Regions from separate parts of the Homo sapiens genome. Here regions 2, 3 and 4 are each linked to region 1. Evidence: fine-mapped expression QTL. A gene starts in region 1. Each other region holds a variant in brackets. All regions are shown on one strand. Distances are between the middles of the regions. Region 1 holds the start of TMEM170A (transmembrane protein 170A). Region 2 overlaps TMEM170A (transmembrane protein 170A). Region 3 overlaps CFDP1 (craniofacial development protein 1). Region 4 has its middle 27 kb from the start of BCAR1.

Region 1 (8,106 bases):
GTCACCACGTTGGCCAGGCTAGTCTTGAACTCCTGACCTTAGATGATCCGCCCGCTTCGGCCTCCCAAAGTGCTGGGATTACAGGCGTGAGCCACGGCAACCGGCCAATTTAGTCATTTAGATGTCTACCTAACCCTCCGTAGGTAAATGGCTAAACTGCAAATACAGGTAATAAAGAAAAAATCAATTCAGTACTTCCTGGTATACATAAATATGTCAGAATACTTCAGAACAATGATTCTGCCATAATGAGTTGGCATACACTGCAAGTAACCTTTTCTGTGGGGCCAAAATATCAATACAACAGATTCAGGACAATGAATGCAACTCCTGTTAAGCAGATTTTGGTGTCTCAAATAGGATATAACTTCATGTATTTATTACACCCATTATTCCTGCCAAAGATGAGACACAGCAGGGAGGTTATGTGTTTACTACCAAATTCTGATCTACTTGGGGTCAAGGGCTATGCCTCATACCTGCTCATAACACCAGACCAGAGTTGGCACTTGGCCAAATGTATACTTACTGAATAAACGATCTCTGGTAATCGACATCACAAGTTACATACCCATAACAGTAATCATAAACTCAAGAACATACTGAAGTTTAATATTTTCAGAAAAAAGTTCTGAAAGTAAAACAATTCACATGGCTACAGATTACCTACTGTGATGTATTAAACCTATCCCAAATCCACTTATCTCAATCTTTTCTTAATGAAAGGGAACTAAAAGCCAGAGACTCAACAGACTATTCAGTTCCAACTTATGACCCTACATATGACGTTTAATTAACAGAGGATGCAGGAACCCTTACAGTAGAGAGTTCTGATAGACATCATCTTCACCAAATGATCAAACTTGGTAGTAAAGAGAGGATGCAGATACCCTTACAGTAGAGTTTTCATAGACACCATCTTCACCAAATGATCAAACTTAGTATTATCAATGAAGATACAAATTGACATTCAATGTCTCTTTTTTTGTTGAGACAAAGCCTCGCTCTGTCACCCAGGCTAAAGTGCAGTGGCGCAATCTTGGCTCACTGCAACCTCTGCCTCCTGGGTTCAAGAGATTCTCGTGCCTCAGCCTCCCCAGTAGCTGGGATTACAGGCACACACCACTACGCCTGACTTTTTAGTAGAGACAAGGTTTTGCCATGTTGGCCAGGCTGGTCTTGAACTCCTGACTTCAGGTGATACGCCTGCCTCAGCCTCCCAAAGTGCTGGGATTACAGGTGTGAGCCACTGAGCCAGGCTGACATTCAGTGTCTCTTGATGTGATGTACTGGTGAGTGGACGTCACCTAGGTAGGTAGCGTTCTGACCAAAAATGTTTAATCTAAATCTAATCATGAAGACCATCTAATGAACCTAGATTGTAAAACAGTCTATACAACAATTCACATGGACTCTTCCAAAATGTCCATCTTAAAAAATTCAAACAAGGAAGTAACTGTTTTAGCTAAATGAAACTAAAGAGACGGACAACTTAATGCAATGTGTGAACCTTAGATCATGGAATATATATATTTTTTTAAGGAAAAAAATCTATGTGGACAATTGGGGAAATGTAAACAAGGCCCACACATTAGGTAACATTATTCTATGATGTTCAGTTTCTTGGATGTGATATGGTTTCATGGATAGAAAATGGTTTTTAGAAGATACATGTTAAGATTATCAGGCATCAAGCAAGTGTTATGACTTCTGCAACTTCCTATTGAATGACTCGAGTTGAAATGGGACATGTGACCTACATCTAAGTGTGATACGTATGTAATACATGTGGTTATATATATAGAGAGAGAGAAAGAGAGCAGAGAGAGAGAAAGAGAAACAGAAAGCCAAAGAATCAAAATATTACTGAGTCTAAGTAAAGGGTACATGGGTATTTGTTATACTGTTCTCTCAACTGTTTGGCAGGCTTGACATTTTTCAGGAAAGGGGAAAATTAAGGAAACAAAGATTAATCTGGTCCCAGTAGTGCCTCCAGATTGCACGAACATTTCATGTATCACACAGGGTCACCAGAATACCATCAATTTTTTGATATCACTGTCAAAAGTGATCCTAGCACCTTCTGAAATAACGTGAGCTGCCAGATTCTCATTTCAGGAATGACCACAAGCGAACATCTGCATCTGACCCCAACCTGCCTGATGACCTTACCCGCTACTTCACAATCCCGTCCGGGAAAATCCCTGGGCACATAACACTGCAAGTCCCAGGTGTCCGCTGAACGGCGCCTGGCAGTCGCTGCCCAGGGGATGAGAAATCACAGGTGCCTTGTTTGGAACTAGAGTCTGGAATCTCGTCCTCCTTCCCTCTGCTCTGGTCCCTCATTGTTTATGAAGACCTCAGTCCCCTCTGCTGGGAGCCCCACCTCCCCTTCCAGGGCCACGGGCTCTAGTCTTCTTGCCTTTCAAGGACCACACAAATAACTGTGCCTCCCCTCAAAGCTTTTCTCCTCCTTCCCAAGTGAAGTCCTCTCTCCTCCCTCCAGCTTTCAGGGCACGGAGCGCTCTTCCTGGCATTAGAATTCTGAGCAACCCTCCTAGCAGGCCCAGCTCAAGCCGCAGCGGGGAGGAAGAGTTCAAAGGAAGCTGTGCCAAAGATCTCGAAGGCTTAGTGGGAGACCCAGCAACAGGTGGCACCAGGTCTGGGAAAGATTCCTAGAAAGCGGAGCGGGTCTCGGAGGGGGAGGATTTAGCCCCAGGCGCCCGCGATCAGCGAACGAGCGCCTGCGCGGAGGGGCCGGGCTGCAGCCCCGGGGCAAGGGGAGCGCGAGCTCTGACTCCTCAGCGCGGCCGGGCCGCTCCGAGACCCCTCGAAGGAGGCCGGGCGCCGTGGGGCAACCCAGGCAGGGCGGGGACCACAGCCTCCCGGGCTCGTGGGGTGCAGCTCTGAACCTGAGGCGCTCGGAAGCTCAAGGCCAAGACCCGCTCGGGTGGCGGCCGAGCGCCCTCCAGCCCCGGGCCCACCTGCGGCCGCTCTCTGCATCTCACGCCCAGCGGGACTCCGGGGCTCCGCCTCAGGGACCGCCGAAGAAGTGATGGGGAAAGGGGCTCCGGGCGAGCAGCACGGCCCCCCTCCCGGAGGACAGCGCCCACGCCGCCAGCAGGCTGCGCACCCGGGACCCCGCCCAGACTCGGGGCGCCCACAGCACGGCAGCGGCGACGGCGGGGCGCGCAGTGCGCAGGCGCGGGGCGGGCCGTACCTGGGAAGGAGCAGAGGGAAGTAGAGTTGGGGCACAGGGTCCCGTTGCCCACCCGCGGCACAACCTTCAGGCTCAGGATCTGCTGCAGGAGCCCGGCCGACCCGCCGCTGCCGCCGCTCCCCTCGCGCTCCATCCCGTCGCCATTCACCACAGAGAAATGAGGGACGAGCGCCCGAAGTGCGGTAGCGGCCGGCGCCGACTCACCCTCGCCGCCTCAGCGTCACCTCCAGCCGGGGTCCTCTTCCCCCAATCCCAACGGCGCTGCCAAGTGACCGTTGCCTCCTCCAATCACAAGGCGCCGCAGCGCTCGGGCGCAGGGCCAGGGTTGTTCCCGCCCCCAACGTTGCGCAGGGCTCGCAGAGACACAGCCCCACGGACGCGCCCCCTCCTGGACGGCGCGCTCTGGGACCGCGCGCTCTGCTCTGCCCTTCTCTGCAGCGCCCCCTGTGAGAAAGTAGGGAATTGCATGCGCCCCAACAGAGCCGCGCTATGGAGTTACCAGGGATCTGGAAAAATACAGTGATGGAACGGATATGTAAAGTTCTAGTTATGACTGGACTCCAGCATTTATGAAACCTTCATGAACAGAACAAGAACGTTCTCTATTTAAAGCTGATAGTAGAAAGAGCCCATGCAAAGTCTGGTGTGGGACCAGAATGGGAGGGAGGCTATGTAGCCTCTATAGAGCTCGACTTAGTTTTAAATAAAATAAAATGTACAGAGATTCGGTTCAGAGCAATAAAATTAGATCACACTTTTTTCTTTTTTTTGAGACGGAGTCTCCCTCTGTGACCCAGGCTGGAGTGCGGCCGCGCGATCTCTGCTCACTGCAAGCTCTGCCTCCCGGGTTCACACCATTCTCCTGCCTCAGCCTCCCGAGTAGCTGGGACTACAGGCGCCCGCCACCACGCCCGGCTAATTTTTTGTATTTTTAGTAGAGGCGGGATTTCATCGTGTTAGCCAGGATGGTCTCGATTTCCTGTCCTCGTGGATCACACATTTTTGTCTCACCTCCCTTCAGAAAGCCTGTTAAAATGAAGGCAGAGAAATCGTAAAAAGGAATAAGCTAATGTTCAGTTTGTTTGCACTGCTGTAACAAAGTACCTGAGAGTGGGCAATTTATTAAGAACAGAAATTTATTTTCTCACAGTTCTGGAAGCTGGGAGGTCCAAGATCAAGGTCGCAGCAGGTTCCATGTCTAAGGACGGCCCGTTCCTCACTGATAGCACCGCCCGGGCGTCCTCACACGGTAACAAAGGGAGCCCACTCTCCAAATCCCTTTTATAAGGGTCCTAATCCCATAACGGGGGCTCCACTCTTCTGACTTAATCGTCTCCTAAAGGCCCCTCCTCTCAGTACTATCGCATTCCCACGAAGTTTCAGGACATGAATTTGGGGGAACACGTTCAGACCATAGCAGCCATTAACAATAGTGTTCTGGAAGGGAAGTTACCAAGGATAAGTAATGTCCACAAGGTTCCAGGTGATGAAGAGGCTTGTGACGAATAATAATGTTTTTGTTTGGTTGGTTGGTTTGTTTTGAGACAGAGTCTCACTTTGTTGCCCAGGCTGGAGTGCAGTGGCGAAATCTCAGCTCACCGCAACCTCCGCCTCCCTGGTTCAAGCGATTCTCCTGCCTCAGCCTCCCCAGTAGCTGGGATTCCAGGCGCGTGCCACCAGGCCCAGCTAATTTTTGTATTTTGAGTAGAGATAGGGTTTTGCCATGTTATCCATGTTGGTCTCGTTCCTGACCTCAAGCGATCCACCTGCCTTGGCCTCCCAAAGTGCTGGGATTACAGGCGTGAGCCACTGCACCTGACTGGTAAATTTTTTTTTTTTTTTTTTTTTTTTTTTTTTTTTTTTGAGACGCAGTCTTTTTCTGTCGTCCAGGCTGGAGTGGAGTGGAGTGTAGTGGCGCAATCTCGGCTCACTGCAACCTTCGCCTCCCGGGTTCAAGCAATTCTCCTGCCTCAGCCTCCCAAGTAGCTGGGATTATAGCTCCGTGCCACCATGCCCAGGTAATTTTTGTATTTTTAGCAGAGATGGAATTTCACCATATTGGTCAGGTTTGTCTCAAACTCCTGACGTCAGGTGATCCATCTACCTTGGCCTCCCAAAGTGCTGGGATTACAGGCGTGAGCCACCGTGCCCAGCCTGAAAACTTCTTTAAAAATCATTGAATTGTACAGTTAAAATAAATGAATTTTATGCTACATAAATCATACCTTTTAAAATCTTTTTAAAAAGTGACCAATTCACCGATCTGCCAAGCAAGGTGGCTCATGCCTGTAAACCCAACACTTTTGGGAGGCCAAGGCTGCAGGATTGCTTGAGCCCAGGAGTTTGAGACCAGCCTGGGCAACATAGGTAAACCTTGTCTCTACTAAAAATTCAAAAATTAGTCGGGTGTAGTGGCACACACCTATAGTCCCAGCTAACTCCAGAGGCTGAGGTGGGAGGATCCCTTGAGCCCCAGAGGTCAAGGCTGCAGTGAGCTATCATTGCTCCATTGTACTCCAGCCTGGGCAACAGAAGAAGGCCCTGTCTCAAAAAACAAACACACAAATAAACAAACAAAAAACCCCACAAGAATTTAAAGATGGCTCAGGAATTTAGTAAATAATTAAAGCTGAAACTTTTTGTCATATAAGTTGAAATGGAAAAACCTGTGATTCACAGGTATTTTCTGGCGCAGCTAGACTTCTTGTTGGCATTTCAGATTCTGTAGGATTTTTTTGTGACAGTGGCTGACAGCCTTTTTCCATAATTGTGCTATATCCAATGCTGGCCCTGGAAATAAATGGTGTTGCTCCACCAAATTAATCATAATAAAGAAAGGAAAAGAAAAATAAATAGAACAAGAAGAAAAAGATAGAAATAAGAAATTCTACCAAGCACAGTGGCTCACGCCTGAAATCCCAACACTTTGGGAGGCCAAGGTGGGTGGATCACCAGGTCAGGAGTTGGAGGCCAACCTGGCCAACATGGTGAAGACTGTCTCTACTAAAAATACAAAAATTAGCCGAGCGTGGTGGCGGGTGCCTGTAATCCCAGCTACTCAAGAGGCTGAGGCGGGGGAATCACTTGAACCTGGGAGGAAGAGGTTGCAGTGAGCCGAGATCTTGCCATTGCACTTCAGCCTGGGCAACAAGGGCAAAACTCCATCTCAAAAAAAAAGAAAGAAATAAAAAAGAAATTCCTAAAACAGAGGGAATCTATAGGTCACCTACAAAGAAATGAGAATCAAATGGTTCAGTAGCCAAATGAAGAAGAAGGCTGGATGACAATGTACCAACACCTTCAGTATTTGCAGAGAAAATGATTTTTTTTAAAGCTTTTTTGTTTTTAAATTTTTTTAAGAGACAGGGTCTCACTATGTTGCCCAGGCTGGTCTCAAACTTGTGGGCTCAAGCAATCCTCCCGCCTTGGCCTCCCAAAGTTCTGGGATTACAGATGTAAGCCACTGCACCCGGTCATTAACCTATTTTACACTCAAAAGTATTGTGTGCAAAATACATATTTTCCATTTTTGTTTGTTTGTTTGTTTGTTTGAGACAGAATCTTGCTCAGTCACCCAGGCTGGAGATCAATGGCACGATCTCAGTTCATTGCAACCTCCGCCTCCCAGGTTCAAGCAATTCTCCTGCCTCAGCCTCCTGAGTAGCTGGGATTACAGGTGCCCACCACCATGCTCTGCTAATTTTTGTATTTTTAGTAGAGACAGGGTTTTGCCATCTTGGCCAGGCTGGTCTCGAACCCCTGACTTCGTGATCCACCCACCTCGACCTCCCAAAGTGCTGGGATTACAGGCATAAGCCACCACACCCAACCCATATTTTCCTCTTAATTCAAGAACATTAGCAAGACTGTTTATTAGAATTTTCTCCTGAGCCGGGCGCGGTGGCTCACACCTGTAATTCTGGCACTTTGGGAGGCTGAAGCAGGCAAATTGTCTGAGCTCAGGAGTTCCAGACCAACCTGAGCAACATGGTGAAACCCCATCTCTACTAAAATAGAAAAAATTAACTGGGAATGGTGGTGTGTGACTGTAGTCCCAGTTACTCAGGAGGCTGAGGTAAGAGCATTGCTTGAACCCGGGAGCCACTGCACTCCAGCGTGGGCAACAAAGCCAGACTCCATCTCAAAAAGAAAAAAGGCCGGGCGTGGTGGCTCACACCTGTAATCCCAGCACTTTGGGAGGCAGAGACGGGCGGATCACGAGGTCAGGAGATCGAGACCATCCCTGGCTAACACGGTGAAACCCCGTCTCTACTGAAAATACAAAAAAATTAGCCGGGCGTGGTGGCAGGTGCCTGTAGTCTCAACTACTCGGGAGGCTGAGGCAGGAGAATGGTGTGAACCCAGGAGGTGGAGCTTGCAGTGAGCTGAGATTGCGCCACTGCACTCAATCCTGGGCGACAGAGCGAGACTCCGTCTCAAAAAAAAAAAAAAAAAAAAAAAGAAACAGAAGTCTCTCTTGAAACCTCCGTTTAGGAAGCTTCCTCCTGCCAGTTCCCTACCACTACAATTGGCGTTTTGCATCAACCAAGAAACCTATCTAAAATAAAAATAGGAAGTATAAAAAGGGTCAGGAAATACTGACCTTTTAACCATGCTGTCTTTTTGGTACATTTCCCAGACTAGCAGAGTCTATTAGAAGTGGAAGAAACCGCTGGGCGTGGTGGCTCATGCCTGTAATCCCAGCACTTTGGGAGGCTGCGGCGGGTGGATCACGAGGTCAGGAGTTTGAGACCAACCTGACCAACATGGTGAAACCCCGTCTTTACTAAAAATACAAAAATTAGCCGGGCATGGTGGCATGTGCCTGTAATCCCAGCTACTCAGGAGGCTGAGGCAGGAGAATTGCTTGAACCTGGGAGGTGGAG
Region 2 (8,106 bases), 21 kb before region 1:
AGTGCCATCACGGCTCACTGCAGCCTCAACCTCCCTGGTCTCAGGCAATCGTCCCACCTCAGCCTCCTGAGTAGCTGGGACTACAGGGGCGCACCATCATGCCTAGCTAATTATTATTATCATTATTATTATTTTTTTTTTGAGACTGAGTCTTGCTGTTGTTGCCCAGGCTGGAGTGCAATGGCATGATCTTGGCTCACCACAACCTCCACCTCCCAGGTTCAAGCGATTCTCCTGCCTCAGCCTCCTGAGTAGCTGGGATTACAGGTATGCACCACCACACCCGGCTAATGTTTGTATTATTAGTAGAGACAGGGTTTCACCATGTTGGCCAGGCTAGTCTCGATCTCCTGACCTTGTGATCCGCCCGCCTCAGCCTCCCAAAGTGCTGGGATTACAGGTGTGAGCCACCGCGCCTGGCCACGCCTAGCTAACTTTTATACCTTTTGTAAAGACGGGGTTTCACCATGTTGGTCCAGTTGGTCCACCACCAGGCTGGTCCAGTCCTTTGTGACTTGAACATATTTCCTCATATTTTGTGAGGTTTCCACTTTTTTTGAAAGACAGCATCCTGCTCTATTGCCCAGGCTGGAGTGCAGTGGTGCATAGCCCCACTGTAGCCTCCAACTCCTGGGTTCAAGCAATCCTCCCACCTCAGCCTCCTGAGTAACTAGAACTTCAGGTGCACACAACCACACCCAGCTAACTTTTAAAAATACACATATTTTGTAAAGATAGGGTCTTGCTGTGTTACCCAGGCTGATCTCAAACTCATGACCTAAACCAGTCCTCCCACCCGGGCCTCCCAAATTGCTGGGATTACAGGCATGAGCCACCGTGTCTGGCTATTCATACTTTCTTGAAGGTGTCCTTCAAAGTCGTTTTTAATTTTGATGAAGTCCAATTTATCTATTTTTTGTTTATTTTCCCTTGTGCTTTTGGAATTGTATCTAAGAAAGCTTTACCTAAGCCAAGATCATAAAATTTACGCTTATTTTTTTCTAAGAGTTGTAGTTCTTGCGTTTAGGTTTATGATCCATTTAAGCACATTTTTTTTTTTTTTTTGAGATGGAGTTTCGCTCTTGTTGCCCAGGCTGGAGCGCAATAGCGTGATCTCGGCTCACTGCAACCTCTGCTTCCTGGGTTCAAGCGATTCTCCTGCCTCAGCCTCCCAAGTAGCTGGGATTACAGGCATACACCACCACGTGTGGCTAATTTTGTATTTTTAGTATAGACAGGGTTTCTCCATGTTGGTCAGGCTGATCTGGAACTCCTGACCTCAGGTGATCTGCCCGCCTCGGGCTCCCGAAGTGCTGGGATTACAGGCATGAGCCACTGCACCCGGCCTAAGCACACTTTTCTTATGGGAGAGTAATAGAAAAATAGATGTAAAATTTGAACCCAGTATTTGGAAGTTGACCATTCTTGGCGTCATTTACCTTGGACAGCATAAATGGTGTCCTACAGCCACAAATCAGGATGTACCCTTTTGCCCTATCACTGGGGGTGAGTCTGGGGAACAGGAGCCACTGCGTTCTCTGGCAGACACTCCCCAGCACCCATTTCTCCTAGCACTCCATGTGATTGTTCAGATTTACAACTAGAGTTCCTGACCGCTTTAAGGGTAATCAGAGTGGGAATTACTTTCTAATAGTTGAGATGGAAAAAAAATTGGTGGTGAGCAGGCCAAATCCAGCTTAAAATCATGTATTGTAATGACTTAAAAGTGTTTTACGGCAAGGCGCACAATTACAGGTGGCTCGCGGCTGTAATTCCAGCACTTTGGGAAGCCAAGGTGGGCGGACCATTTGAGGTCAGGAGTTCGAGACCATCCTGGCCAACACCGTGAAACCTCGTCTCTACTAAAAATACAAAAATTAGCCAGGTTTGGGGGCGCACATCTGTAATCCCAGCTACTTGGGAGGCTGAGGCAGGAGAATCACTTGAACTTGGGAGGTGAAGATTGCAGTGAGCCAAGATCGCGCCACTATACTCCAGCCTGAGCAACAGAGCGAGACTGTGTCTCTAAATAAATAAATAAATAATAAAAGTGTTTTACGCAAGTTTAAATTAGTTGCTAACACTTAAAAATGGAGAGATTTCAAACAGTAACCTAGATTTCCAGCTTCTCTTGAAAATAAGTATCTGGCAAGATTGGGTTAATCATCGAATAAAGCAGAAACAGGCTGGAGCCAAGCAATAGCTGACTCCTTCGGACAGGGCTCTCCACTTGGCCACAGCACAAATCCCTCCAACTCCCTAAAGATTCCTGGTTCACTGTTCTGTTTTCTCGGTAATAATTTAGGGTGTCCTCCCTGCCGATCTCAGCACCTTTACTCCCAGATACATATACAGTCTTGGGGTCTTCTGTCTGAACTGTGTACGTATCTTTCCGGGGTGCTAGAAACATTCTGTCTCTTGATCTATTAGTCACATTAAGTATATATATATATATATATATATATATGTAAAATTCATTAAGCTATACATTTTAAGATTTGTACACTTTACTGCATGTTAAACCTCAACTTTAGAAAATTAGAAGGAATGAATGGGCAATCTCCTGCCAGACATTCTCTGTATGTGTCTGCAATGGCTGGAACTGCAGCAATCTTGTGACCATGAGGTAAACTACCCAACTTAGTCCCATTTGTTAAAAATGGCAGAACAGTGAGATTTATGATGTCACCAAGGGTATTAAATTAACCAAACACGACGAAGCTTCTCTTCATGTGGACTTACTATTAAAATAATACATTTTCACACACTGTATCAATACTCACCTATTCCTGCACAGAATCAAACAAAAGTTTCTTGATGGGAATATATGGCCCAGCAAGTAGAGTTAATAAGAATTTCAAGTTCACATGTTAAGTACGGTTTAATCACAACTTTGAACAAGAATTTTATCATAAATTAGTAAGAAGTAGAACATAAAAAAAGTTACACATGCTAGATATTAAGTTATTTAAAAAATGAAAACTGAAGTCAATTTTATTACAAAAGATTAAACTCATTAGCCACCAAAAAGAAATATAATTCCAACTCAGAATTGAAAGTAATTTTTTATTGATAAACATTTACACTAGAATTAGAAATGTCAGTAGAAAAATAAAATTTAAATAATTTTCTATTGTACAAAGATTTGATCATTTTGACTGTAGCAGTTAGTGAAATAACATAATATAAAAAGTTAAGCTGATCTGAGTCACAACCAGCCTTATAGAGTGCACAAAAAAGAAATGCAAGTACACGACATTTCTGCATATGGTCTGCTAATGGCACCGATGCTTCACATTCCAGGAAATGGTTACTTAGGGAAGGTTGATATGTGCTGCAGCATAATAGGAACTTAATTCAAACCAGAGCAACCAGAAAGGATACTGGAGGCAAAAGCCAAAATACAATTTAAAATCTTAAAAAAAATAAGGAACGGTTTAAAGGTAATTAATGAACTTTTCCTCACCTAGTGTAAACATTTCATAAGAAGTAATATTTTGTGGTCACAAAAAAAGCACAGATACCTCTTTTAGAATATTCATGATGCTCTTGTGTATGAACTTAAGTTTTCATGAAATGCTTTCACCTCAAAACCCCGTATTCAAGAATCAAGAAGGCCAAGCA[T/C]GATGGCTCATGTCTATAGTCCCATCACGTTGGGAGGCCGAGGCGGGTGGATCACTTGAAGTCAGGAGTTTGAGACCAGCCTGTCCAACATAATCAAACCCTGTCTCTACTAAAAATACAAAAATTAGCTGGGCCTTGTGGCGGGTGCCAGTAATCCTAGCTACTCAGCGGCCAAGGCAGGACAATCACTTGAACCCAGGAAACGGAGGCTGCAGTGAGCTGAGACCATGCCACTGCACTCCAGCCTTGGAGACAGAGCAAGACTCCATTTCAAAAAAAAAAGAAAAAAAAATCAAGAAATCAGCTTTTATGGTCAGGAGGCTGCCTCCCTCCCTCTCTTGCATTTCTTTTTTTTTAAAAAACAAAGCAGAGGCCGGGTGTGGTGGCTCATGCCTGTAATCCCAGCACTTTGGGAGGTGGAGGCGGGTCAGGAGATTGAGACCATCCTGGCTAACACGGTGAAACCCCGTCTCTACTAAAAATACAAAAAATTAGCTGGGCATGGTGGTGGACGTCCGTAGTCCCAGCTACTCGGGAGGCTGAGGCAGGAGAATGGCGTGAACCCGGGAGGCAGAGCTTGCAGTGAGCCGAGATCATGCCACTGCACTCCAGCCTGGGCGACAGAGCAAGACTCCGTCTCAAAACAAAAAAACCAAAAAACCAAAGCACAGCTGGGGGAGGATATTTCTAAGAAATCAGTTTTTGGCAAAAATTCTCAAAACTATATAAGGTAAAATGTTCAACACAATTGCCAATATTCTTCCATCTGAGTGACCACCCCCAAATAATTCTATATTTGAGACATAAAAAAGAAAATCAAAGCTATTCCTTATGATTCAAATAGTCTTTCCCTGAAAACATTTCAAGCTACACCGCTCAAGCTATTTAAAATCTATATATATATATAGATTTATTCACTGGAGAATACTTCACCTACTGGGATGGATGAAACACTCAGTAATTTGAAGATACCTTTTATACGTTTAGTTTTTTAAAAGAGTAGATAACCAAAATATATCAAACAAGAAACAGAAACAAATACACCTTTCAAAATGCCCTAATTTTAAGTCTTAGCTCCAGTGAAAAATATCTAACATTTTAATCATGTATCAGTACTTCAAAAGTTACTGTTTAAGAGGAGGGGCCCACTAACTACTGGTCTATATGTTTAGTGTATGAAATTACATCCAAAGAATGCTTTAGGCAAGAACTCCTTCAAAAGACATTTTTCAGTAAGAGGCATCCTTCAGTAGAGATGATGGCAATCATTTCCCATAAGAAAAGTTACCAATTCCCCAGATTTCTTAAACTGAAGGGATACTTTTGAAAATCACAGCTCTTTAAACAAAAAACTAGAATTTTTACAATTTGCCTGTGAGAAAGATTTGAGCTTCTTGTTAGGGAATTTGTAAGAATATTTGGCTGCATTACAACTCTACTTATAAGTTTCTGCCCGTGTATATGTCACTATAGTTTTGATAAGTTAATTACCAAAATTAGTAATATTATTTTAAGACAGGGTCTTGCCCTGTGGCCTAAGCTGGAGTTCAGTGGCGTGGTCTCGGCTCACAGCAGCCTGAACCTCCCAGGCACAAGTGATCCTCCCACTTTAGCCTCTTGGGTAGCTGAGGCCACGCCCAGCTAATTTTTTTTTATTTTGTAGTAGAGACAAGGTCTCACTATGTTGCCCAGGCCAGTCTTGAACTCTTGGGCTCAAGCAATCCTCCCACATCGACCTCCCAAAGTGCTGGGATTATAGGTGTGAGCCACTGCGCCCAGCCATAAGTGGTCTAATTAGTCAAAAGAATATGTCCAGTTTTTGTGATCTCTTTGTAATTCTTTTCTATGAGTTTCCCTGGCAAATTGGTCCTCCTGACTTTTTTCTTTTTTTTTTTTTTCCAAATTGGGCAGACTCCAGAATCACAGTAGATTCAGAGACTCTCCTCCTGGCTATTTTTAATCAGAAGCCAGAGTGTGTATTGCTTTAAATGGAATAGATACGTTCATGTGTATATGACCTCATGGGCTGTTAAGCCTTAATCTCACAATGAAAACTTTCCTTTAAAGATGTCAGATTTATGGCCAGGCGCGGTGGCTCACGCCTGTAATCCCAGCACTTTGGGAGGCCGAGGCGGGTGGATCACAAGGTCAGGAGTTCAAGACCAGCCTGGGCAAGATGGTGAAACCTATCTCTACTAAAAATACAAAAATTAGCCGGGCACGGTGGCAGGTGCCTGTAATCCCAGCTACTCAGGAAACTGAGGCAGGAGAATCGCTTGAACCCGGGTGGCAGAGGTTGGAGTGAGCTGAGATTGCACCACTGCACTCCAGCCTGGGCAACACAGTGAGGCTCCGTCTCATTTAAAAGAAAAAAAAAAAAAAAAGTCAGATTTAATCACCAGAAACTATTTTGCAGATAACCACCACCACTACCACCACACTGATTGTATTCCATACAAAACAGTTTAGGTGGAAAGGATCACATTAAATACTTAATTTCTGCGATTCTTTCCCTCTCAAAGAGTCACAGTTTTCAGGCCTTTTAATGAAAAAGAAAGTTAGGCAGTAGAATAAAAATTTAAATAGCTAAAATTAAGTTTTAAAAAAACTCTTGATATTTAAATCTCTTTAAAGATATAAATTCTTTTGAATAAAAATGTAAAGGGGAGAGTGGGTACATATCTGAACATTAAACTTTAGGCACTTTCTGGGAGTTGATACCCAATACTGTAAAAGTGGGCTGAAGAGTTACCACTAGGTAAACACATTAAGCTAAAAAATCAATAACCACTAACTCTAGTTTCAGATGCACTTCTATAGTTTCTCAAGGGTCATTAGTATACCAAAGTCACTAAGAAAAACTATGACAGAATGCCTAAAGTATCTTATGTGTGCCTCAATGTCCAAACAAATCTGGCTTAAAATTTCCAACTCAAGCCATTTAATAGGGTATGTATGTTTCCAATTAAATGAAATAAAATTAAGAGAATTAAAAGTGATAGGGAAAGGTGGTACAGAAAATCTAAAAAGTCTAAATTAGCTAGCTTATTTTGATAAAACATACAAAATAACAAATTCACATCTCTTAAAATATCTTAATCAGAAGTCAAGACAGTTGTCCAGAAAATGTCACATTATTCATTGTTATCTACTTTTTATTTATAAACAGTGGAACCAAAGCCACTACTTGAGTTATACTTAAATTTTTTTTCCTGCTTTATTTCACCAAATTTGTTTTCAAAACTATACTCAACCAAAACCTATTTGGCATTTATTGTCACTAAGATGTAGCAAAGAAAAGAGTTTGCCAAATTTTAATCAAGATTAGATAAGATTTTAATACAACATACTCTGCTCATTTGAAATAAACCAGTATCTTCCACGGTTTCTTCAAAATATGCGACATCTCACAGAATACTGTAAATTTCAGTGCAAAGGATGCCACCCCAGAGACACTGTTGACTTGGCTTGGGTAAAGGTACACATGAAAACTGCTTAAATCAAATATCTACAAAAAAGAAAGCCAAAAGACTTGTTTTGGTTGAGAACAATAGGAGTCCACATAAGTCTTCAATTCTAGGAGCTTCAAAATGAAGAAAAGGCTGAGATGTGTTGTCCTTCATGTTCCTGTTCATCCAAGTTGCTTCCCTTTGAAGAACTAAGAAAACACTACACTCCATAATGTATTCTTTTGGAGGATTCCATAAAGTTTAAGTTCAACATCTCAGCATAAGGATGTATGCTATAGAGTAGCTAAAATCCGTAAAAAGGAGACCACCAAGACGCAAAATGTCTGTCCAGTGCCCAGTGTGAGGGCTTCAAATGGTATCATTTCCTTCCCTGCTGCTCGGTAAACTCCAGCAATAGCTGCACCTGATTTAAAATGCAAGAATGTTAAACAAAAACAAAAAACGAAGGTTAACAAACTCACGAAAATACAACATTTAAAATACTACTGCGAGTAGAATGTTCCAGATTTTATACTGAAATTTAAATCTTACAGAAATGTTAGGTTTTCCCTATTCTTTCTGTGGACTACTCTACACTTTGAGTATTCATTGCATGGCTTGCAAGATCACTTTTAGATGCTGACTCCTTAAAACCCAGAGTCTCCTAGATTTATTGAATAAAATAATCTGGAAGAAATAATCAAAATCACAAAGATAGCAATTCCCACATGACCAGATTATGAACTCAAAAATATCTGTATTCCCCTACCAGTTACCCCATGCCTAGCCTTCAACAGGGACCTAATACATTTTTGGTAACAAATGAAAAAGGATCTTTTGAGTTAGACTAAGCAAGAAATGTTTCAGGCCACAGGGAATCCCCACTCCACCTTCTATCACACTCATAGTTCCCTTCAAGAAATGGACGGAGGAGGGACTAGAGGGGTGAAAAGGGAAGACAGGAGGACTCTAAGCCATAAAGTTGTTATTCATTCACAGGGCATGAGAGGAGAGATACTCAGGGATTCCTTTG
Region 3 (8,106 bases), 78 kb before region 1:
CTAGGACTAAAAGATCTCAGTTTAAAGCAGAAGCCAATGCAAAGCATGAGTTTTTCCTACACATTCTCAAATTAGCAACTACTGAAATTGTACTACATTTCAAATTCAAGGAAATGCTAATAATCAAAAGGTTATGTTTTATGGTCTTAAGCATCCAGAATTACTAGGTCTAAAGATGAATGTTTGATTAGAATCTTCCATATCCTCAATGATGGGAAAATATTGGCCTAGCTTTAAATTATTTCAGCTTAAATTTATCATAGGTTTGCTTGGGTAACAGGGTTGTGGCAGAATCCAAAATTCAAGTAACTGAGTATAGTTAAGTGCTGGACTTCAGACCAGCCTGATTTTCAATCCTTGACCAAAATAATTAGAAGACAGCTGCTCAGCCTCTCCCAAAAGAAAAATTCCTCAATCCAAATTAAAGTATTTATCTAATATGAATCTTTCTGTACAGTCAGAACCCTTCAGGAAATAGCAGCAAGTTGCCTTTTTAAGAACTTTAATCAGAACATAAAAATCGCTTAGTGCTATGATTAGGATGAATGACATTCTTCCCTGATGTTAAAACATTTTGAGATAGTACTTTCCAACACAAAGAACCTAAGAGTGAAGCAGCACACAGCATTTGCAAAGGATCAATAAGATACAGCCCCAGCGAGGCGCTGTGGCTCTCACCTGTAATCCCAGCACTTTGGGAGGCCGAGGTGGGCGGATCATGAGGTCAAGTGATCGAGACCATCCTTGCCAATATGGTGAAACCCTGCCTCTACTAAAAATACAAAAATTAGCCGGGCATGGTGGTGGGCGCCTTTAGTCCCAGCTACTCGGGAAGCTGAGGCAGGAGAATTGCTTGGACCTGGGAGGTGGAGGTTGCAGTAAGCCGAGATCGTGCCACTGCACTCTAGCCTGGCAAAAGAGCGAGACTCCGTCTTAAAAAAAAAAAAAAAAAAAAGATACAGCCCCAAATTTGGCTCACAATTTATCTCAGTGTTTATAAAATCTAGATTTTTTTACCTGATCTCTTAAATGACTGAAGATTAATTAACTTTGATAATTTGATACAATATGGAAACTACCTACAGGTAATATGCAAACCTTAATTTATTCATTCCGTAACATTTGACAAATACACAAAATAATATTAGTTTAATAAAAAGTCTGTTTTGGTAACAGTTTTCAAAAGAGGAAAAATTTTGGCTGGGCGCAGTGGCTCACATCTGTAATCCTAGCACTTTGTGAGGCTGAGGTGGGCAGATCACCTGAGGTCAGGAGAGCAGCCTGGCCAACAAGGCGAAACCCCATCTCTACTAAAAATACAAAAATTAGCCAGGCATGGTGGCACATGCCTGTAATCCCAGCTACTTGGGAGGCTAAGGCAGGAGAATTCCTTGAACCCAGGAGGTGGAGGTTGCAGTGAGCCGAGCGAGATAGCACCACTGCACTCTAGCCTGGGCGACAGAGTGAGACTCCATCTCAAAAAAAAGAGAAAGAAAAGAGGAAAAATTTTAAACCACCACACAAACCAGCAGGTTATAAAGATACAGTTACTACAATGATCGTGGAGAAATGCAGATAAATACATATTGGTAAATGTATGGAAACTGGTCTTCTCACATAATACTGGCATGACTTCAAATTGCTTCTGCCTATTTAGCAGCAGCTATTAGAATTTAAGATGCACATACCCAATGACCCAGCAATCCCACTTCTAAAATTCTGTCCTTCAGAAATAACAGTATGAGAACATAAAAAACATATGTGTAAGGATTATCACAGATTATTAATAACTGTAAAATTTGGAAAACTGTAAATGTTCATCAATAAGAGAAGGTGCACTCAAATTATGGAAGTCACAAAATGGAATACCAGGCAGGCATAAAAAAAATACAGATGTTTATATTGAACCTGGAGAGATGCCCAAGATAGACTGTTAAGTAAAAATACAAGTTGCAAGAAGAAACTAAAACTATATATATATATATATATATATATATATATATATATATATATATATTGCAGACCAGTACAGACAGGGTAAGTCCACTTTTGTTTTAAGTATCTACGAATGCAATACATATATATGTATACAATATATATGTATATATTGTTTTCCCTGATCATTGATTTTAACTTATTCTTAATTTATTTTTAAATAAACCTTGATAGGTATTGCAGGTACAGAGTAAATAGATTAGAAATTGAATAAGGAAAATAATTTTTAAAAGATTTTCCCATGAATACTTGGAATATTTTGAATCTATTAAAGGCAATTTCATTCACATTCTTGATTCAAAGATATTATTCCAGGCCAAGGTAGTAACTGACGTAAGTATGAATGGAGAATCTTGTGACTAATATTAATATATATGAATACAATATATTATCATAGCACAGGGAAGGATCTGCACAAAACTGATCATCAGTTAACAGCTATCAGCTTCTAGGGATGACAATTAACAATTGGAAAGGCAGAAAGGAACTTTCACTGCCTTCTCTCCGAAAAAAATTTAAGTGGTGGGACTACAGGTCATTTTTACTTTCTTATTTGTAATTTAAAACAACAACAACAACAGCAACAACAAAGTTTTTGTATCCCAAGGAAAAAAATGAAAGAAGAAAAATCATTTCTCTTTCTAAGCACAATAGTAGAGTTGAAAAAAAAAATTCTAATAAAAGAAAAAAGTAGAAACTGCATAGTACATAGAAATATCATACCAAGAGACGAATCTAATAAGGCAAAGAAAAATGTACAAGACTCTTTTACCCAATCTTAAGAATGCTGCTTAATGCTTTCTGGGATCTTGCCAAAGACGAGCTATCTTTTCAGGTGGAATTCTGCCCTCTAGTGTACAGTAAAAGAAGTTAAAGACCTATGAAGCAATAATAAATTACTGTTTTAAAGTTAACCAAAATATATTCACTTCATTCCTAGAGTATCATAATCATCTTCTTAAATGAAGGTCTTCGTTTCCTTGCTCCCAAATCAATTTATATTATCATACTAAGTAAACTGTATGACTACCATAACTTCACATACCTATTCCATTCTTCCCTACACATCCAAGAAGCACCTAAAGCATTTAACTTGACTCATTTTTCACACCAGGACAATTTGGCACAACCAAGGGTATAGGAATACGGCAAAATAAAGTTTTAAAAGTCTGTGATCCTAGCAAACCACCATGGCACATGGATTCCTATGTAACAAACCTGCATGTTCTGCACATGTATCCCGGAACTTAAAGTAAAATTAAAAAAAAAAAGTTTGTGATCCTGATAGACATCTGGCTCTTAAAATCATACATGTTTGAAACTTGTTGGCACTATAATTTGAGGCTAAGAGCAAAGGAAAAAGGCTGCTATGTGTAAATAAAGTTCATCTCTTCATAGAATTTTCTAAGAACACTAGAATTTATTTAACTCCAGGCAACCTTGAAAATCACTATAGATAATTCCTAGGTTCAGAGTATTTGTTGTAGGTATTCAATCCGAACTGACAGAGGTTACATCATCCTGGTGACCACAAATGAAAAAAGTTTTTGCTTTGAAAACTTTTTGGCCGGGCACAGTGGCTCACGCCTGTAATCCCAGCACTTTGGGAGGCCCAGGCAGGTGGATTGCTTGAGGTCAGGAGTTTGAGACCAGCCTGGTCAACATGGTGAAACCCTGTCTCTACTAAAAATACAAAAATTAGCCGGGCGTGGTGGCAGGCTCCTGTAATTCCAGCTACTTGGGAGGCTGAGGCAGGAGCATCACTTGAACCTGGGAGGCGAAGGCTGCAGTGAGCCGAGATCCCGACACTGCACTCCAGCCTGGGCAACAGAGTGAGACTCCGTCTCAAAAAAAAAGAGAAACCTTCTCTCTGTTTAGAGTCTCATTTAGATGCTCAGATTGGCAAGGACTTTATTTCATGACCCGAATTGTCAGATATCCTCTTCCCTCCCAAAAGGATATCACTAGACTCTCCATTCATACTTATCTCAGTTACTAGCTTAGCCTGGAATAATAGCTTTGAATCAACAATGTGAATGAAATTGCCTTTAATAGATTGAAAATACTCCAAATATTCAAGGGAAAATCTTTTAAAAACTATTTTCCTTATTCAATTTCTAATCTATTTACTCTGTACCTGCAATACCTATAAAGGCTTATTTTAAAACAAATTAAGAATAAGTTAAAAACAAATGAAGCACGGTATTAGCATCCACTGAAGAACATGAAGGTGAAAGTCAGGTACAGGGTATTCTTTTCTTT[C/CT]TTTTTTTTTTTTTTTTTGAGACGGAGTCTCGCTCTTGTTGCCCAGGCTGGAGTGCAGTGGCGCAATCTCGGCTCACTGCAAGCTCCGCCTCCCGGGCTCACGCCATTCTCGTGCCTCAGCCTCCGCAGTACCTGGGACTACAGGCGCCCACCACCACGCCCGGAGAATTTTTTGTTTTTTTAGTGGAGACGGGGGTTTCACCGTGTTAGCCAGGATGGTCTCGATCTCCTGACCTCGTGATCCACCCGCCTCGGCCTCCCAAAGTGCTGGGATTACAGGCGTGAGCCACTGCGCCCGGCCAGGGTATTCTTGCTTCTACACAAACCATGTCATTCTGGAGCTGATAAGTAAGACAACACCAGTACCACCAGAGCTGCCAAAATCAATCATTTCCATTGTCACCACTAGTTCCTGAAACATCCTATTAAAAGCTATCTCTAGCTAGTCCTATCCTGGAACAAATGGCCACCAGAAGAAATGCACTTGACACAAGCTGGGCAATGATACTCCTACCTGGCTCTCCATCAACATATAAGTTGTCCACAATGTAGGATTCATACCTCAGTAGGAAATGATTACCCTCTGGAAACAGTAATAGCCATTATTCCCCACATCACATCTTGTCCACAGCTTCACTGTTGCTGCTGACAGGTATCAATGTACAAACATACCTGGAACTTATTTTTTAAAATGTGCTAGACCTTCACTTTCTTGAGACAGGAATGAAACAAAAGTATAGAAAATGGTTATATTAATGAGGAAAAGCTTACAAAGGAAAAATGGGGAAACAGCCCTCTCACTTTCTTCAAAAATAACAAAATAGCTTTCAAAGAGTCCCACATCAGTTATGAAATTGAGGAGAGACTCTTTTAACAAAAAAACATCTATCAGGAGAATAAGAGCGAGCAGTGGCAATGGCAAAGTGGCTGAGAGCCCAGGCTTTGGTCTCAAATAGATTTGGGCTGGAATCCGAGTTCGACCAATCATCAACTATGTAACTTCAACAAGTTAAGGACGCCTCTCTGAACCTCAGTGTCCTGATCTGTGAAATGGGCACAAAGTTAGTGCCTACTCTTGGAATGTTTATGTGGGTTAAGTGAAATAATACATGTAAAACATTTAGCATTGTGCCTTAAATGTGGTGAAGCAGCCAATAAATAGACATTATTTATTCTTTATAAAAGGGTAAAGAATATTTAACCTGTAGTCTGAGAAGATAGTATGTTTGGTATTTAATCTAGAGAACAAATTGTTTCCAAAATGAAATTAACATGGTCATCAAAGGGAAACATGTTACCCTAGAGTGGGAAAAGCAGTTGCCTACAGGAACCATGCAGGTAATATAAATGAGTAAAGCCACTGAGTAGGGACCACAAAAGGGCAAACCCCATCTACTCTGTGCCACCCCAGTGTTACCATAGATGAAGAGGGAAGGTAGTGGCAGAAATTTTCATTTCTCAAGAAAAGCCAGTAATCCAGATTTTTATGTCAACTTTCTAGAGTTTTAAATATTGGCCAAATGAGGAGACTGGGAGAGATCACACCATTAACTGCTCAGACAGGAAGACTCTGCTGAACAAACCAAAGATTGCTGGTTACTGACTACATACACTGAATTCTGGCAAACTACAATGGTCAGCATTACTGTCTTCTCAGTCCTTAGTCTGAGTCTTTTATCTTCAGGATGGTACTGTGAGGGATTCTGTGTCTTCTATCTTTGGGGAAAACACTGCTACACTGACATCACCTATGATGTTGTTTGATACTCAACATTAAGGCCTTTTTTTTTTTTTTCCACTCCATAGATCAAGAAAACAAGGCTAAAACTACATGGGAAAATGATGTCTTTCCCTCTTAAGTTATATTGCTTTAGGTCATTCTCAATCTATAAAGAGGCAGCTAAACAGTAGGCCCTTAATTAAACAAGTCAATGCGTAAGGGTAGGATTACAAATTTTAATGACACTAATGGTGGCCCGCTGTTGGAATAAATAGTAAATGTTGGCTTGAAAATAGGTAGCAAATGTGGGGTTGAAGCCTGGCCAGCCAGATACCAGCAAATGCTGAGAAAACTGGATGCAAGTAGCTAACAGTACTGGTAGTAAGGACTGGGGAGTGAGGGAAGAGGCGGATCAAGAGCATGGAATGACAAGACCATGAGAATTTAGACACATTAAGCTTTGTACTTTACTACCAAATGTAGGAGAGTAATTTTTGTAGTTTGATTCCTGCCTCTAATTAAAGTAGGGCTTATTCCATTCCCAAAACATAAACTTTGGCTTTTTATAGCCTAAGCAGTGTGCTATTTTAAACACATGGAGGAAATGCATTTTTAGTTACAAACATTTGCTCCTCTAAATCTGTTCTTATTTCTGAATCTGTGCTTATCTTATCAAAAGATGTGGGACAGGATGTTTTACTCTCCTGCTCTGGTTTTCCTGTATTGCTTAAATCTGTTTAGAGAGAGGAAAATAAACAAATAAAGTGTTTCTGCAAGACAATTTCTATAAACTGAAGCAGCTCCCAAAATGAAAAAAGTCTGTGGGAAAAAAACTTGACTGTGTTAATTTTCTTTTAAAATATTAGATTATTCCTATAGATCCTTCCCTTGAAAAGACTTTCTATACTCTGCAAATGGAGTCTGCTGACAGATACTAATATTTGCACGGATAAAATGTGCCCACTCAGATACCCCAGATCAGCTGAATTCCTCTTGGACCCGTCTTTTCCCAAGCACAATTGTAACTGTAAAGCTTTTTGAGATGCATTTCATAAAAATGAGCATACCAACCTTGAAAGTCATTCTGGATCTACTCAGAAATCCAAGGTTCACAGTATCATAATTAAACACGTACATTTTCACGTACAACTCTAAGGACTTTTACTCAGGCACTTGGCAGACATATCCTTGTAATGTGTTATGTTCCATCAGGGCTTTCAAAGAAACTGATTTTGGTCAAATTTCACTTTACCCTGTTTATAAGGGAGTCAGCATTCTTTACTGAAAAATATTTCACTTGTATAGCTCCCAAGGTAGCTCCTGGTTGGCCCCTAGATTCCCTCTATACCCTTTCCCACATGGCTCTCTGCTCTAGGAGCTGCTCTGTGAGGACAGCCTGATGAAGACTCTCCTTAAACCAAACTTTAGTCAGACTCCACTGAGCCCTCTTCTCAACTAAGGCTTGAAATTGGCCCCTGCCCTTGCTGGCCTGCACAGCGCAGTTTTGGAAAGAATTCTGTGCTAAGTCAGTGTAGAGAGAATCCCCTACCCTTGATATCTGATCACACTACCCTGCCTTGAGCAAGAATCACCCTCTCCTTGATGTCTCCTCTTAGTAATTTTCTATCCACTGACCACCTGCCTCCCGATTCTGCTAAAAATCCCCAGCTGTCTTTGCTGTATTCGGAGTTGAGCACTCTCTCTCTCCCCAGAGATAGTCTTGAGACCCACTGCAATAGTTTTGGATAAAGTGTTCTCACAGTTTTAACAAGTGTCAGAATATTCTTTAATAAGCCTCAGAGGGCAATGGAGTACCCTAAGAGGCTGCAGAGAGAGAAGAAACAGATCTGGGTATTTATTCCCTTGGCTTCCCTCTGGGGGAAGTCCATCACTTAACAGAAGGTCTCAGCTCCTGTCAGGAGGTCCATTCCACCTAACCCTTTCTTCCCCTGCCATTAACTGCTCCCACTCTTGCCCTTTCAGGCCTAGGGGTAGTAATAGAGTCTCATTATTACCAGCCCCAGGGAGGCCACACCAATATTTGTATCCCTGTGGTTTTCCACCACTTTGTGAGAAAGTATCATATTTGAGAATGCCATCTGTTTCCTGCTGGATCTCCCTAATGCAGA
Region 4 (8,106 bases), 190 kb before region 1:
CAGAGTCTCCTCTGATGCACCCCTTCCTTCCTTCCTTCCTTCAAGGTCTGCTCAAGGTTGCCTTCTCAGGATGCCTTCCCTGATTTACTTTTGGTCATAATGGAAATATTATCTTGTCATAGGTTGCTGTGAAGATTAAATGAGATAATCTAGGTAAAACATTTAGCACAGGGCTGGGTACATGGAAACCAACAAATGGGAGGAATTTTTATTTGTGGTATTTACCACTTCCTGATATTATATATTTACTTGTGTATTCAATAGCTGTCTATCTGCTCCTGTGAACTATAAACTCCGTGAGGGCTGAAATCATCTTGACAAATAGTAGGGGCTCAATGAATAACTTTCATTTTTATTTTTTACTTTTAGAGACAGGGTTTCACTCTTTCACTCAGGCTGGAATGCAGTGGTGTAGTTGTAGTTCACTGCAGCCTCGAGTTCCTGGCCTCAAGCAATCCTCCCGCCTTAGCCTCCCAAAGTGCTAGGATTATAGGCCTGAGCCAATGCACCTGGCCTCAAAAGCGGTAAAATAATCAATCATTCATTGTACAGGATTCCCACACCTGATTTAACCATTCTCTGCATGTGGGTGTTGCGGTTCTTTCCATTTTGGACCAAATAATGTACAAATAATGCTGAGATGAGTATACTTGTAAGCGGATCTTTCTCTGCAATCTGATTACTGTATTTTCTGATAATAAATTCCTGGACATTGAATTACTGGGTCAAAAGTACGAAATTTTTTAAAAGTAGCAATCCATTTAATAACATGTCTTTTGTATTCATAAGTAACAAAAAGGTCCTAAATTCTTCAAAATGTAAAACTAGAATACAAAGCAGGTGGATCACTTGAGGTCAGGAGTTAGAGACCAGCCTGTGCAACATGATAAAATCCCGTCTCTACAAAAAAATACCAAAAAAATTAGCTGGGTGTCAGGGCTGGGCGCGGTGGCTCACGCCTGTAATCCTAGCACTTTGGGAGGCCGAGGCGGGCAGATCACCTGAGGTCGGGAGTTTGAGATCAGCCTGACCAACATGGAGAAACCCTGTCTCTACTAAAAAAATACAAAATTAGCAGGGCGTGGTGGTGAATGCTTGTAATCCCAGCTACTCGGTAGGTTGATGCAGGAGAATTGCTTGAACCCGGGAAGCAGAGGTCGCGGTGAGCCAAGATTGCACTATTGCACTCCAGCCTGGGCAACAAGAGCGAAACTCCATCTCAAAAATAAAATAAATAAATGGATAAAATTAGCTGGGTGTCATGGTGCGTGCCTATATTCCCAGCTACTTTGGGGGCGGAGGCAGGAGGATCTCTTGAGCCTGACAGGTCGAGGCTACAGTGAGCTAAGATTGCACCACTGCACTCCAGCCTGGGTGACAAAGTGAGACCCTGTTTCAAACAAACAAAAAGCCTATAATACAATTCAGAGACATAGGTGGCAACTTCAATTTATTCTAATAGCAGGTTCTCTTTTTTTTGGGAAGTTAAAACACCTCTCTTGGAGAATCTTTCTTTCTTTTTTTTTTTTCTTGGGGGGCGGGGTGTGGGGACTGAGTTTCGCTCTTGTTGCCCAGGCTGGAGTGCAATGGTGTGATCTTGGCTCACCACAACCTCCGCCTCCCGGGTTCAAGCGATTCTCCTGCCTCAGCCTCCTGAGTAGCTGGGATTACAGGCATGCACCACCATGCTCGGCTAATTTTGTATTTTTAGTAGAGACAGGGTTTCTCCACATTGGTCAGGCTGGTCTCAAACTCCTGACCTCAGGTGATCCGCCCACCTCAGCCTCCCAAAGTGCTGGGATTACAGGCGTGAGCCACCACACCAGAGTCTCGCTCTGTTGCCCAGGCTGGAGTGCAGTGGTACGATCTCGGGTCACTGCAACCTTCGCCTCCCAGGTTCAAGCGATTCTCGTGCCTCAGCCTCCCGAGTAGCTGGGATTACAGGTGTGTGTCACCACACCTGGCTAATTTTTGTTTTTGGTAGAGACGGGGTTTCGTCCTGTTGCTCAGGCTAGTCTTGAACTCCAGGGCTCAAGTGATCCACCCGCCTCAGCATCTCAGAGTGCTGGTATTACAGGCATGAGCCACACCGTGCCTGGCCAAACCCCACTTCTTTTTTTTGAGACGGAGTTTTGCTCTGTCGCCCAGGCTGGAGTGCAGTGGCTCGATCTTGGCTCACCACAACCTCCGCCTCTCTGGTTTAAGTGATTCTCCTGCTTCAGCCTCTCGAGTAGCTGGGATTACAGGCACACCAAGCCACCACGCCTGGCGAATTTTTGTATTTTTAGTAGAGACGGGGTTTCACCATGTTGGTCAGGCTGGTCTCGAACTCTTGACCTTGTGATCCTCCTGCCTCAGCCTCCCAAAGTGTTGGGATTACAGGTGTGAGCCACCCAGCCTGGAAAACCCCCCTTTTTAATGGAACAGAACTCACTTACCCTGAGAGGTGAGAGGATAGAGGGATTCAGAAAGCACATTCACAGCAACTCACAGATGAATGTACCACAAGGCTGGGCTTGAGTGAATCTGGGTCCCTGGGGCAGCATATCTCTCCCCTGTCCAGATGCTGCCTTCAGAGACAGAGCCCTGGGCTGATATGGCAGAAGGTTCTGGAATTCAGGGACAATCTAGTTCCAGTCTGTTCCTTGGATGGCCATTCTCCTCCTAGTTCAGGTAGGTCTCTCCCAAAGCACCAGGCTCTCTGCTCAGACAGGCAGGGCTTCCTCGATGAGTCCTCTCCTCTCAGAGGGTTCACATAAGCAGAGAGGGGCACACCTGCCCTGTCCAAGTGAGAGAACTTTCTGGGAGGTAGCTGGGCATTCCATTTTGTGGCCTTGAAAATACGTGCCCTGCCCAACACAACAAACTCACTCATAGAAATAATCTAGAAAGAATCAGGGATGTGGATGGCCGGGCGGGGTGGCTCACGCCTGTAATCCCAGCACTTTGGGAGGCCAAGGCGGGCGGATCACGAGGTCAGGAGATCGAGACCATCCTGGCTAACATGGTGAAAACCCGTCTCCACTAAAAATACAAAAAATTAGCTGGGCGTGGTGGCGGGCACCTGTAGTCCCAGCTAGTCGGGAGGCTGAGGCAGGAGAATGGCGTGAACCCGGGAGGCGGAGCTTGCAGTGAGCAGAGATCGCGCCACTGCACTCCAGCCTGGGCGACAGAGCAAGACTTCATCTCAAAAAAAAGAGAATCAGGAATGTGGAAAATTATCAAAGGGCTAAAGCAGTGCACCACAGCATCATTCATAATCACAACAGTGGGTGACCTGAATGGCCAATGGTGGAAGATCGGTAAAATAAACCATGGCACAACCACAAATGGCATATGCTCTGCAGCCCTTAAAAACCGTGTGCTCGGCCAGGTGCAGTGGCTCACACCTGTAATTCTAGCACTTTGGGAGGGTGGATCACTTAAGGTCAGGAGTTCAAGACCAGCCTGGCCAACATGGCGAAACTCCGTCTCTACTAAAAATACAAAAATTAGCCAGGCGTGGTGGTGAATGCCTGTAATCCCAGCTACTCAGGAGGCTGAGGTGGGAGAATCGCTTGAACCTGGGAGGCAGAGGTTGCGGTGAGCCAAGATCATGCCACTGCACTCCAGCCTGGGCGACAGAGCAAGACCCTCCCTCAAAATAATAATAATAATAATGTACTCAAAGAATGTTGAGAATATTTAATAGGGAAATGCTCAGCGCGTAGCATTTGGTTAAAACTGCACACACCAGGGCAGGCTGATAGGACTGTGATGATGGAAATGTTCTGCACCTGCCTGGTCCCTTATTCCATAGACAATAACCATAGGCCACTAATGAACACATGAGGTCTTGGACTAGCACAACTGAAGAACTGAATTTTACATTTTAACAAATTTAACATTTAAAGAGCTGCAGGTGATAGTGACTTCTGTATTGAATTGCACAGGTACACTAAATCCCAAGTATGTTAAGAAAAGGTGTGGGTGGCTGGGCGTGGTGGCTCATGCCTGTAATCCTAGCACTTTGGGAGGCCAAGGCAGGCAGATCGCTTGAGACCAGAAGTTCAAGACAAGCCTGGGCAACATGGCAAAATCCCGTTTCTACAAAAAAAAAATACAAAAACTAGCCGGGCGTGGTGGTGCACACCTGTAGTCCCAGCTACTCAGGAAGGTGAGGCAGGAGAGTCGCTTGAGCCAAGGTCGAGGATGCAGTGAGCTATGATTGCAGCACTGCACTGCAGCCCAGGTGACAGACCCTGTCTCAAAAAACAAAAACAAAAACAAAAAAAGGTATGAAAAACACATTAAACACATAAAAAATGGCTGAAATAATATTCCAAAGTGTATACAGTAGTTTTCTCTGTTAGGAAGGTTATAGGAGATTTAAATTTTCTTTCATTTTTCTGCTGTCAAATTCTCAATGAATAGATTTCTTCTCCATCAGAACAGCAGAGGAATATC[A/G]GGAGGAGAGAGAAGGAGGGAAGAGGAGAGCCAGTAGAACTCAGGTTGGCAGGAAGAGCCCAGCGGGGCTGCCCTGGCTGAGCTGGCAGGAGCGGGAGCCGCGAGAATCCGCCTAGCTCAGGGCTTGTTTTGACAGGAGTGTGGTGCGTGGGGGCTGGGTCTCCAAGCGGCAGGGCAACCTAGCTGACACACTGCAAACTCGGCTTCGCTGGTGTGAGTGTGTGTGTGCACATGGGTCCTGCCATCTGTTGCCCACCTGGCAGGAAAGTGTTGTCTCTTCAGCTGTATTTGTTGGGTCTTCGGTGGATTTTGTTGTCTGAATTTCTCACTTGCTTCTCAGGCCTGACTTCAGCTGCTTCTCCAAGTTACCAACAACTTTTTTTTTTTATAAAAACATTTGAGACAGAGTCTCGCTGTGTTGCCCAGGTTGGAGTGCAGTGGGGCAATATTGGCTCGCTGCAACCTCCACCTCCTAGCTTAAGTGATCTTCCCACCTCAGCCTCCCAAGCAGCTAGGACTACAGGTGTGTGCCACCATGCCTGGCTAATTTTTTTTTTTTCTTTAGACAGGATTTCACTCCTGTCACCCAGGCTGGAGTGCAGTGGTGTGCTCTTGGCTCACTACAACTTCTGCCTCCCGGGCTCAAGCCATCCTTCTGCCTCAGCCTTCTGAGCAGCTGGGACTACAAGCACACACCACCACGCCTGGCTAATTTTTGTATTTTTAGTAGAGATGGAGTTTCACCATACTGGCCAGGCTGGTCTTGAACTCCTGACCTCAGATGATCCACTGGTCTCCCAAAGTGCTGGAATTACAGGCATGAGCCACTGCACCCGACCTAATTTTTGTATTTTTTTGTAGAGACAGGGTCTCACTATGTTGCTCAGGCTGGTCTCAAACTCCTAGACTCAAGTGCTCAGCCCACTTTGGTCTCCCAAAATGCTGGGATTACAGGCGTGAACCACTGTGCCCGGGCGCCGACCCCCACAACTTTTAGGAGACTTCAGCCAAGCTCTTTGAAAGTAGGAGGAAGTTCCTGCAGGTGAGTCTCGGCAGACATCGGGGATGGAACCTAGGCTGACTTATTCATTGTGGCTTTGCTGGTGCAGCAGTTTAGGAATTTCAGTTATTTGAAGTGGCAAGGATAAAGAAAGATGTAATTTTCCTAAATATATAGCTGGAGGCCTTTTAATTATTTTACTGCTAAGGAGGTCATAAGCACTGGTTCTCAAGCTTTGGAGTGCCGAAGAATCACCTGGCTGCTTGTTAGAAGTAGAGATTCCTAGTGTTAAGCCCCAGGGATAATTTAATCAACCCCCTCATTTTATAGACAGGCCAGGGGAGGCAGAGGGCCAAGCCATGTGCCCAAGGTCACCAGCTGGTCAGCAGCGCCGGGATTAGGATCTGGGCATCTGATGTGGGTGTCTTTCACTAATTGCCTTGCCTCTCAATTCGCTTGTGTCAGTTGTCTGCCTTAAAGGAAGAGTTAGACAAAAGTGGGCTGTGAGGTTTTTTTCCCACCACCAACCAATTCTCCATCACCAACTGGATGTCCGACAATTCAATTCTGACACTACCCAGAATTAGCATACACCCCACAGGTTAAGGACTTGGTCCCACAAGACTGCCCACACTTCTGACACCAGCTACAAATGGAGTGTCCAGGCTACTCATACTTCTGCCCAGCTGACTATAAATTTGGAGGTTCCCATGAACCCTTCTTCCTATTGGGTTTTTTGTTTTGTTTGAGACAGGGTCTTGCTCTATTGCCCAGGCTAGAGTGCAGTGGTACAATCTTGGCTCACTGCAACCTCCACCTCCTGGGCTCAAGCAATCCTCCCACCTCAGCCTCCTAAGTAGCTGGGACCAGACAGCTACCATGCTTAGCTAATTTTTAAGTTTTTTTGTAGAGACAGGGTCTCACTATATTGCCCAGACTGGTCTTGAACGCCTGGACTCAAGCTGATCCTCCTGCGTTGGCCTCCCAAAGTGCTGGGATTACAGACATGGGCCACTGTGCCCACACTCCTATCAAGTTTGATAATTTACTAGAATAACTCACAGACTCAGGAAAGTGCCGTACTCACCATTGCAGTTTATTATACAGGATGAGAATGAACAGCCAGATGAAGTATATAGGTGAGGTCTGGAAGGGTCCTGAGTGCAGTAGCCTCTGTCCCCATGGACTTGGGGGTGCAAGGGGGTTCGGGGTTTTTGTGAGGTTTCATTACATAGGTATGATAGATTAAATCACTAGTCTGTGGTGATTGAGCTCCATCTCTGGCCCCTCTCCCCACCCTGGAGGCTGGGAGGGGAGGGCTGAAATCATGTGGTTGGTTTTCTGGCACCCAGTCCCCATCCTGAAGCTATCGAGGGCTCCCCTATGATAAGCCATGGTCCCTCATTAGCACACAAGACAGTAAATTCCAAGGGTTTTAGGAGCTCTGTGCCAGAAACACAAAGCCAAATAATTAATTAATAGTTAATTAACTGAGACAGGATCTTGCTTTTGCACACCCAGGCTGGAGTGCAATGGCATGATCCCAGCTCACTCCAGCCTTGACCTGCCAGCCGATTCCCCTGCCTCAGCTGCCCGAGTAGCTGGAACCACAGGCACGCGACACTACGCCCGGCCAATTTTTTGATTTTTTAGAGATGGGATCTTGGTATGTTGCCCAGGCTGGTCTTGAACTCCTGGGCTAGAATGATCCTCCTGCCTCAGGCTCCCAAAGTGCTGGGATTACAGGGGTGAGTCATATTTTTTTATTATAACACATGGGATATTTGCAATTTTTTTTGGAAAATACTACTGCATCACAAAGACAAAATAAGCCTTTATAATGATAATGCTTATTCTGGTTGTCTCTAGCTCAGTTGTCTATAGGCGGCTCAAGGGCACACATCGGACCCTGTTGGTACAGGAGGGCTGGGATGTGGGGCGAATGGTGACTGGGAGATGGGCAGCTTTTCCTTCTCATGACTCAGGACCCTGAACCTCAAATTCAAGGATCCAATAATGGAACTCAATGGCAGAGTGGTAACAAAATTGTGAGCCTGCTAGAGACAACCTGACAGGGTGTCTGATACAGAGAGGGTTCAGCCTGCTGCAGACAGTGCCCCTCGGCACCCAATGAGCTTAAAAAATGTGTTCCATTTGTCAGTTGGGGTGCCTCGAACTCTGGCAGGCCCAGGTTATCATGCAAATGTGTTCAGTGGAAGAAGGCATGAAATCATTCTCAGAGATGAATGGGGCTGCTCAGCGGACCTGGGAGAGGAGGGCTCTGCCCAGTAAGACTCCTGCACATCCTCAGGAGATCTGGCCACACCTCCCACTGAGAGAAGGCACTCACAGGAGGTTCAAGGCACAGCCTGGGCCTAAGGGCCCAGGGACAACTCAGGACACCGGGCAGTTTGAAGACAGGCAGCCCCATAACTTCTGCCAGAAAATCCAGACATTGAGTGTAATTCGTTTTGGTGTCTTTACATTTCAAGCTCATTTATCCAGGTCAGGAACCATTTAGTTTGCATCTAACAAGTCGAGGCCTGTGCAGCATCCTTCTAACATATGGCCTGTTCATCCTGCCTCTGAGCATCTGTCACAGCCATGTTTTGGGAGGAGGCTGACTCGGCCAGTTTCGCATCGTCAGCTGGCAGGGGCAA

What was found.
Region 2: its variant is fine-mapped to the expression of TMEM170A in whole blood (INTERVAL, PIP above 0.99).
Region 3: its variant is fine-mapped to the expression of TMEM170A in whole blood (INTERVAL, PIP 0.94).
Region 4: its variant is fine-mapped to the expression of TMEM170A in whole blood (GTEx, PIP 0.96).

What each region holds. Positions count from the first base shown.
Region 1 is chr16:75,461,248-75,469,353 of GRCh38, forward strand. TMEM170A (transmembrane protein 170A) reads right to left here and starts at 3,442. Exons shown (of 3, transcript NM_145254.3): 1 at 3,221-3,442. The coding sequence starts at 3,353. RefSeq lists enhancers at 1,873-1,922, 3,112-3,612 and a silencer at 2,789-3,418.
Region 2 is chr16:75,440,192-75,448,297 of GRCh38, forward strand. It overlaps TMEM170A (transmembrane protein 170A), which reads right to left. Exons shown (of 3, transcript NM_145254.3): 3 at 2,863-7,497. The coding sequence ends at 7,367. Among named protein-coding and RNA genes, the nearest start is that of CFDP1, 11 kb to the left of the region's middle. The variant T/C (reference allele first, on the strand shown) is at 3,625.
Region 3 is chr16:75,382,883-75,390,988 of GRCh38, forward strand. All of the region lies in intron 5 of CFDP1 (craniofacial development protein 1), which reads right to left. Among named protein-coding and RNA genes, the nearest start is that of CFDP1, 47 kb to the right of the region's middle. The variant C/CT (reference allele first, on the strand shown) is at 4,258.
Region 4 is chr16:75,274,914-75,283,019 of GRCh38, forward strand. No RefSeq gene overlaps it. Among named protein-coding and RNA genes, the nearest start is that of BCAR1, 27 kb to the left of the region's middle. The variant A/G (reference allele first, on the strand shown) is at 4,447.